Linked DNA regions of Homo sapiens. The protein of the gene in region 2 interacts with the protein of the main gene of each other region in a pairwise test. Each region holds a gene or a part of one and is shown on either strand. Other genes may lie near its edges.

Region 1 (3,814 bases), on a different chromosome or scaffold from region 2:
GTTCACACCATTCTCCTGCCTCAGCCTCCCGAGTAGCTGGGACTACAGGCGTCCGCCACCATGCCTGGCTAATTTTTTGTATTTTTAGTAGAGACGGGGTTTCACCATATTAGCCAGGATGGTCTCGATCTCCTGACCTCGTGATCCGCCTGCCTCAGCCTCCCAAAGTGCTAGGATTACAGGCGTGAGCCACCATGCCCGGCCGGATTCTTTTTTTTTTTTTTTTTTTTTGAGATAGTGTCCCACTCTGTCATTCAGGCTGGAGTGCAGTGGTGCGATGTTGCCTCACTGCAATCTCCGCCTCCCGGGTTTAAGTGATTATCCTGCCTCAGCCTCCTGAGTAGCTGGGATTACAGGTGTCCACCACCACACCCAGCTAATTTTTTTATTTTTAGTAGAGACAGAGTCTCGTTATGTTGACTAGGCTGGTCTCAAACTCCTGGCCTCAAGTGATCCACCTGCCTTGGCCTCCCAAAGTGCTGAGATTACAGGCGTGAGCCACTGTGCCTGACCTTCTCTTTGACTCTTTAATATCTTCCTAAATAACTTAAATACCTTCCCCAGCACCTCCAGTGGAATATGGCCTGAACAGAACTCATTGTATTTCTCTTCATGATCCCTATTTCTCATAATGATATTACCTTCCTCTAAAGGCTTCATTTTTGGCTTCTTTCACTGTACAACCTCATTGCAATACCCTGCAAGATCCTGCTGGAATTCTGTGAACCTCTTCTCACATCTCATCATTCTGTCCTAATCATCACTATTCACTTCAGCTACTCATTTAACTCTTGCCTAATGTAATAGCCTCCCAATAGGTCTTTCCAGTCTACCCTTGAATGAATTGTTCTGCTACTCTTAACCTTTCTGGTGTTTTCCCATTGCTCACTCTAAACTCCTGAATCCTTGGCCTGGCACTGGGGGCTGCCCACGGTCCACAGTCTCTGGCCTGTGCCTGACTAAGCTCATTTCTCCCCTCCCTGTGGGATCTGCTATCCCTGGTTGGGTCTGGGGAGAGTGCTTGCAGGTTCTCTGAGAGTTTTATTTCTTTAAAAGACATCTGTATCAGAGACTGTAAGGGCTAAAACGATCAAACTCTTAGAGAAGACTTCTGTAAGTTGCTCTAGTATTAGAAACAATCCTCTAGCCAGTGTCCCAGGTAGAATAGAAAATAATTCTGTAATCGCTTACCTTCTTTCCTTTGCTCATGCTGATTCCATAACCTGAAAATAGCCTGTCCCCTGATTTTTTGTGTCTAATTCGATAATCCAGATTTTTCACTAAATTCCCCCTGATTCCTTCGGCTCCCTTAGGGTACCTTGTATTTACGTTACAATTGTCTAAGTACTTAGCGCTCCCATCTCTAGGCCAGGACTTTCTTATGGGCAATGACAAGATCTTAGTTACAAGGGACAAAAAGGAACATCACGCTTGACACATAGTAGATATGCAATGAAAATTTGAATGAATAAATGAATGAAAGAAAAAATATATTCGTGTGTTCCTTCTTACCTAGGTTTAAGTTGTTTTCGGGTAGAATCTGGGTCTGATTTATATCCTACAGTATTTAGCTTTGTGCTTTGTGCATAATAGATATTCCATAAATATTTTTTGAATTAGTGGATAGCTATGTAGTTGATCCTGATATGAACTTCCTGAATGCTACATTACTGTATTTCACTTTCAGTAACTTAAGTGTTTCTAATATAGCTAATGTATTTTAAAGTATGTTGATCTTTTCATTGTTACTAGTTTTTAACAGTGGTTATTTTTGTCTTTGAACTGGTTTGCTTTTTCTTGTTTTTTGTTTTTTGTTTTTTTTTTAATTTGAGACAGGGTCTCATTCTGTCATCCAGGCTGGAGTGCAGTGGTGCAAACACGGCTCACTGCAGCCTCAACCTCCCAGGCTCAGGTGGTCCTCCCACCTCAGCCTACTGAGTAGCCGGGACTAGAGGTGCTTGCCACCATGCCTGGCTAGTTTTTGTATTTTTTGTAGAGATAGGGTTTCACCATGTTGCCCAGGCTGGTCTCAAACTCCTGAGCTCAAACGATTCCCCCTCCTCGGCCTCCCAAAGTGCTGGGATTGCAGGTGTGAGCCCCCACGCCGGCCAGGTTGGTTTTTGGTGCATTCTTAATTTTGATTGTTAACACATTATATATCATGATGGGGGAGTGCTTTCTTAATTTCACAAAGGAAATTGGAAAGGAAAAAGAAGGGTCACTTTTAAGACAAATGTGAAGGAGTGTTATAGCTCCCATCTCTAGGTGTTGGTGGGGTTCTAGGACTAGCAATTTTTTCTGCAATAGTGGTTGAGTAATTCTTTCTAGAGTCATCATGGCTCCATCCAGGGACACATAATTTGGATGCTTTCAATGGGAAACTGAGTCAGGCAGCCCTTACTGAAATGCCAGTGGAGCGTTAGAGGACATTCCCAAACTTCAGTGAAGTTGAACTAAGTTTCTCTGCCTCCCCTCCATACCAGGATGCTAACACTTTTTTTTTTTTTTTACAATGAGGAATGCTTGCCAGACTTCCCTGTCAACCTTTAACTATAGAATATTTGATTTCAATTAGTGAATTAATGGTTCAGTCATCTCTCTATCTGAGGGCATTGGTTCCAGGACCCCCATGTATACCAAAACCTGTGAATACTCAAGGCCCACAGTTGGTGCTATAAAACCCAAGAATATGAAAAGATGGCCCTCGGTATACAGGGGCTTTGCATCCTGAGAACGCTGTATTTTTGATGTCATTTGGTCGCAGATGCAGAACCCACTCATAGAAAGGGCTGACCGTATCTATTCAAAAAATTCGTACTTAAGTGGATCCATGTGGTTCAAACCTGTGTTGTTCATGGGTCAATCGTACTTGCTTTTAGTTGTGTTACTTGGTACAAGCCTAAGTAGTAATGAAACAAAAAGAACTGACTGGAAAATGTCAGTGATGCCTTTGTGATGAGTGTGCCTTTGTGATCCACACTGCCTTAAGCTTCACTGCTGCTTTTGGTTTTGTTGCTGTTTGGGGTTTTTTGTTTTGTTCTCTTCAAATGATTTGTTGGGAAAGATGAAAGATGCCTTCGTGTGCTTCTTCTGCAGTGTCACTTTACTTCTCTGTGAAGAGGAACAATCCTAACCCATATATGTAAACTGAGCGAGTTAGTTATAGGAAGTACCTAGGTTTGTGAAGTTGCCTAAATCTTGCAATTAAGACTTACAAGTGGGTAAGTAGAGTCAGGAAAAAAGGTCAGAGGATCTAAGGAGAGAAATTTACTTCTAGGAAATACTATGAACTTATTGGAAGCAGGAAAGTTTCTCTAGTATATTTTAGAAGGATGACCCAGAGCTTGCTTAAATGTACAAAACAGAAACAAAAGACGCCCTCTTTATGAAATACAGATGCATCGTCTACAACTATTGGAGTTGTTCATTTTTTTAGAAATGAACTAAGTATTTGCCATGACATGCTCTCTGAGACAACTTTCATTCGCCTTTCACTGGGCGTTATGGGAATCCTGTAGTCTCAAGACTGGTAAATTTTTAGGCTTTTGGCCCAGTGTCAAGACTTTTGAGCAATGGTATAAATCCATTAGATATGTTGACATCTCAACTTCTTTGAAATAATTAAGATTGTTTGCATTATTTGTCTCTCTCAGAAATGAACACACCTGTGAGTACTGGATGCCTGTGAGCTTGCCATTACCTGCACTGCAAAGACACAGGGCGGTGGCCTCTGAGAAGCAGCTCCTTCCCCTTCACCTTGGCCTTGCCCTTCCTGCTCACGGTCCACCATGGAGACGCTGTCCCAGGACTCTCT
Region 2 (3,581 bases):
GAAGCTTGGGGACAATGAGGCTGGCCCACTCACAGAGCAGGCGACGGTGAGGCCCACATCAGAGAATTGTCACCTGAAGCCAAACCTGTCTCTCTCAGTCTGTTTCTCCATCTGTATAACAGGACTATGCTCTGAATGAACCATGTTTCCTTACTGGAGGCTGCACCAGGGTTTGGGATGAGGTTGAGATGGGTGGGAACGTCCCCACCCTATCCTAGGGCCTCACAGTCTTGGGGACAGAGGGGGCACACCCTGGCCCTCACCTCCCGTAGCTGTTGTAGCTGGCCCTCGGCCTCCACCCGCTGCAGTTCCAGGTCAGCCACCTCGCCTCGCAACGTCTGCACCTGCTCGCCCAGGGAGCTGCTCTGCTTCCGTGCCTCAGATAATGCCTGCCGGGCGGCATCCAGCCGTTCCTGGGGGACAGGGGCTGATGGTGCCTGGCTGGCCTGGGAGCCCTAAGGAGTCCTCTCTATTCTGTACCTCTGGACAGGTCCACAGAGCATAAAACAGGCAGTCATCTCACCTGGAGGGTGGGGTGCACACCAAACCCATCCACGGCCTATCCACTGACCTGCATAAGGTGGGACCCACTCAGACCCCAACTCTCCCCAATAAACCCTGCCCCTGGGTCCCCCCAAGTCTATACCAGTAGCCTTGTCTTCTTACGGGACATACCCAGAGCCTCTTCTCCTTGGCTGATGGTCTACTGGGCCCACGCCCTCCCTTCAAAGCCTGCTCTCATTGGCTCCAACTGACTGCCCCATTGGCTGGCTCTCTACCAGGGCCCCCCTCCAAGCCTGCTCTTACTGGCTGACTCTCTCACTGGGCCCACCCCAGCCAGACCCTGGGCCCGAGACCTGGAGTACTTGGCGGTCATGTTCACAGGCGGTCAGAGCCTTCTGCAGATGCAGGTTCTTGTCCCGGGTGCTGTTGAGGCTGGCACTGCTCTGGGCCAGGGCCTCTGTCAGGCCCCGCACCTTGTCCCGCAGGGCCCCCTCGCTTTCCTCCACCTTAGCCAGGGCCCCATTCAGCCGCTCCACGGTCAGCTGCAGGGTCCCTGCCTTCACCTCGCTGTCGGCCACCTGGCAGGAGGACAGCCAGAACAATCGGGGCTGTTCCCATCTGGCCTCTATACCTCTGCTCCCACTGTGACCTCCACCTGGCATGCCCAATCCACACCCTTCCCACTTCTCTCTGGGCCTCCATCATTGAGACCCAGTGTTCCTAAGCACTCCTGCTGGCTCAGCCTACTGCCACCTGGGCCCCATCCCATTGCTGGCTAACTACTAGTGCCCAGAGTGCCATCAACCTAGTTGTCTCAGACTCCCTGGTCTCCTCCCTGTCCTCACTCCTCTCTCCTCTCTGCTGTGGAAGAGAAAGGGAAACCACCACGACCCTAAAATTTTTTTATTTTTGACCTTGTTGGGTGTTCAGGCAAGGCTAGCCGTATTATTTAACATTCCAGTTAGAGCTGAGCTTCCTAGCAGTCAAGGCAAAAAGGGAAATGAGTGAAACCTACATCTCTAACTTGTCCCAGATGACTCCTATGTATGCAGATGCTGTCATCAAATAGTCCTGAATTCTAATTTTGGCTCTGCCTCTTACTAGCTATGGGATCTTAGACAATGACATCACCTCTCAGCCTCCATTTGTCCATCTGTGAAATGGGGATGTGGGTAATACTTGCCTCACAGGGTTGTTGGGGGACTGCGTAGTGCCTACAAAGCTCTTGGCACAGGGCATGTGAACACTGTGGCTGTGATTTGGGGAGGGGCCCACCTGTCTCTGCAGGGAATCCACCCGATCCTGGAGGGCCTGGGCTTGGGCCTCGCGGTCACTGAGGCCCAGGCGGCTGCGCTGCAGCTCCCCCTCAAGCGAGCGCCGCTGCAGCTCCAGCTTGACAGTGCGGCTCTCGGAGGCGTCCAGAACCTCCTTCAGGCGCCGCTTGTCGCCCTCCAGCTTTGTCTCATTGGCCTTCATCTTGCTGATCTTCTCCTGCAGGTGGCATGGGGCTCAGGCCCAGACGTCCAGTGCACCCCGCAGCCCTCCCGCACACGCCCTGGGGCCCTTAGGGGGAAAGTGGGGAGCAGCCTCGAAGGGTGACCTACGTGACCTGGGGCCGGCCTGGGACCCTCTGGGGTCCTCGGTCTCCCCATGCGTTCCCAGGATGAGTGGACGTGAAGATCCCAGAGCCCACCTTCCAGTTTTAGCCCAGGCCAATGGGCTGTGGAACCCAGGACTGCCCCTTCGCGCCCTATGGCCCCATTTCATATCTGTACAGTAGGGACACTGGATTGGTCCCAGGGTACCACAACCTGGGTGCTCACAGGAGCCCTGAGGAGGGGCTGTAGAAATGCAGATTCCAAGGCCCTTCTCCTGCCCCACTGACTCGTGCAAACTGAGCTGAGCCGGACAGTTCTGAGGGGGCCCTGCTGTTCTAGGGTTTCAGGTGGTGATTCCCCCTCCCCTGCCCAGGGTCAGCCAGTGAAAAAGGCCTGGGGAGTGGGGATGGGACAGGAAGGCAGACTAGGGGTCCTCCCATCCCTGGTACTATCCTAGAGACAGGGTGGATCAACAGGGGGTGTTATTAGAGCCTCCCCAGCCCCTATCCTGAGCCTGGCCCCTCTGCCACCCTGCCCAGAGCCCCAGCCCTGCCCTGTCTGGGGCCCCCACTCTGGCTCCTGCCCAGCTTTGTTCCTGGCCTCCTCCTGCAGCCCCTGCGGCTGGGCCCATGGCCAGGGTTGAAGCCGCAGACACAACAATCCAGCTAAGCTCGGCCCCAGGCCAGAGGCCTTGGGGGCGGGGGTGGTGGGGGGAAGCAGTAATAGAGGGACAGGCTGGGGAGGGCAGAGGGGAGCTTTGGCTGCACTGTCACCACCAGGGCCTGAGTTTCCTGCCCGACAGACGCACATACACACTGGCACACATAGCTGTCCCCCAAACACACATAAAAACCCCAGAACTACAGAGACATAAAACAGAGGCCCCCTGAGTACCACCTGTGATAAGAGCCTGTGTGTGTCACCCTGTGACGTAATCACTGCTCCTCCTTTTACAGATTAGGAAAATGAAAACCAGGCAGATGACAGCCCAAAGCCCAAGCTCTCTTTCTTTTCTTCTTCTTCTTCTTTTTTTTTTCTTTTCTTTTTTACAGGGTCTCACTCTGCCTTGCTAGAGTGCAGTGGCATGATCACAGCTCATTGCAGCCTCGACCTACCGGGCTCCAGTGATCTTCCCACCTCAGCCTCCCGAGTAGCTGGGACTACAGGCCCACACCACCATGCCCAGCTAAGTATTTTTCATAGAGACGGGGTTTCACCATGTTGCCCAGGCTGGTCTCAAACTCCTGTGCTCAAGGGATCCACCTGCCTCGACCTCCCAAAGTGCTAGGATTACAGGCATGAGCTACTGCACCTTGACCAAGCTCTTTTTTCTACAGCCTAGTGACCACAAGTGACATGAGAGGATGGAGTCTGAACATGGTTTCACAGAGTCACAGGCTGGTCACCTCAGTGGGTTGCAGAGAGACTCAGGCAGACAGACACAGGGAGACACACATAAGAGTTAGACACTCACTCGGG

The links.
Region 1: the proteins of CROCC (region 2) and RNF152 interact in a two-hybrid assay, tested with the Homo sapiens proteins (one large-scale study listed by BioGRID and IntAct).

Annotation. Positions count from the first base shown.
Region 1 is NC_000018.10:61,816,438-61,820,251, reverse strand, and holds part of RNF152 (E3 ubiquitin-protein ligase RNF152), read left to right. Parts: intron 1-3,653; 5' UTR 3,654-3,788; coding exon 3,789-3,814. UniProt on the Homo sapiens protein: E3 ubiquitin-protein ligase that acts as a negative regulator of mTORC1 signaling by mediating ubiquitination of RagA/RRAGA and RHEB.
Region 2 is NC_000001.11:16,966,617-16,970,197, reverse strand, and holds part of CROCC (rootletin), read right to left. Parts: intron 1,996-3,581; coding exon 1,780-1,995; intron 1,083-1,779; coding exon 858-1,082; intron 414-857; coding exon 264-413; intron 1-263. UniProt on the Homo sapiens protein: Major structural component of the ciliary rootlet, a cytoskeletal-like structure in ciliated cells which originates from the basal body at the proximal end of a cilium and extends proximally toward the cell nucleus.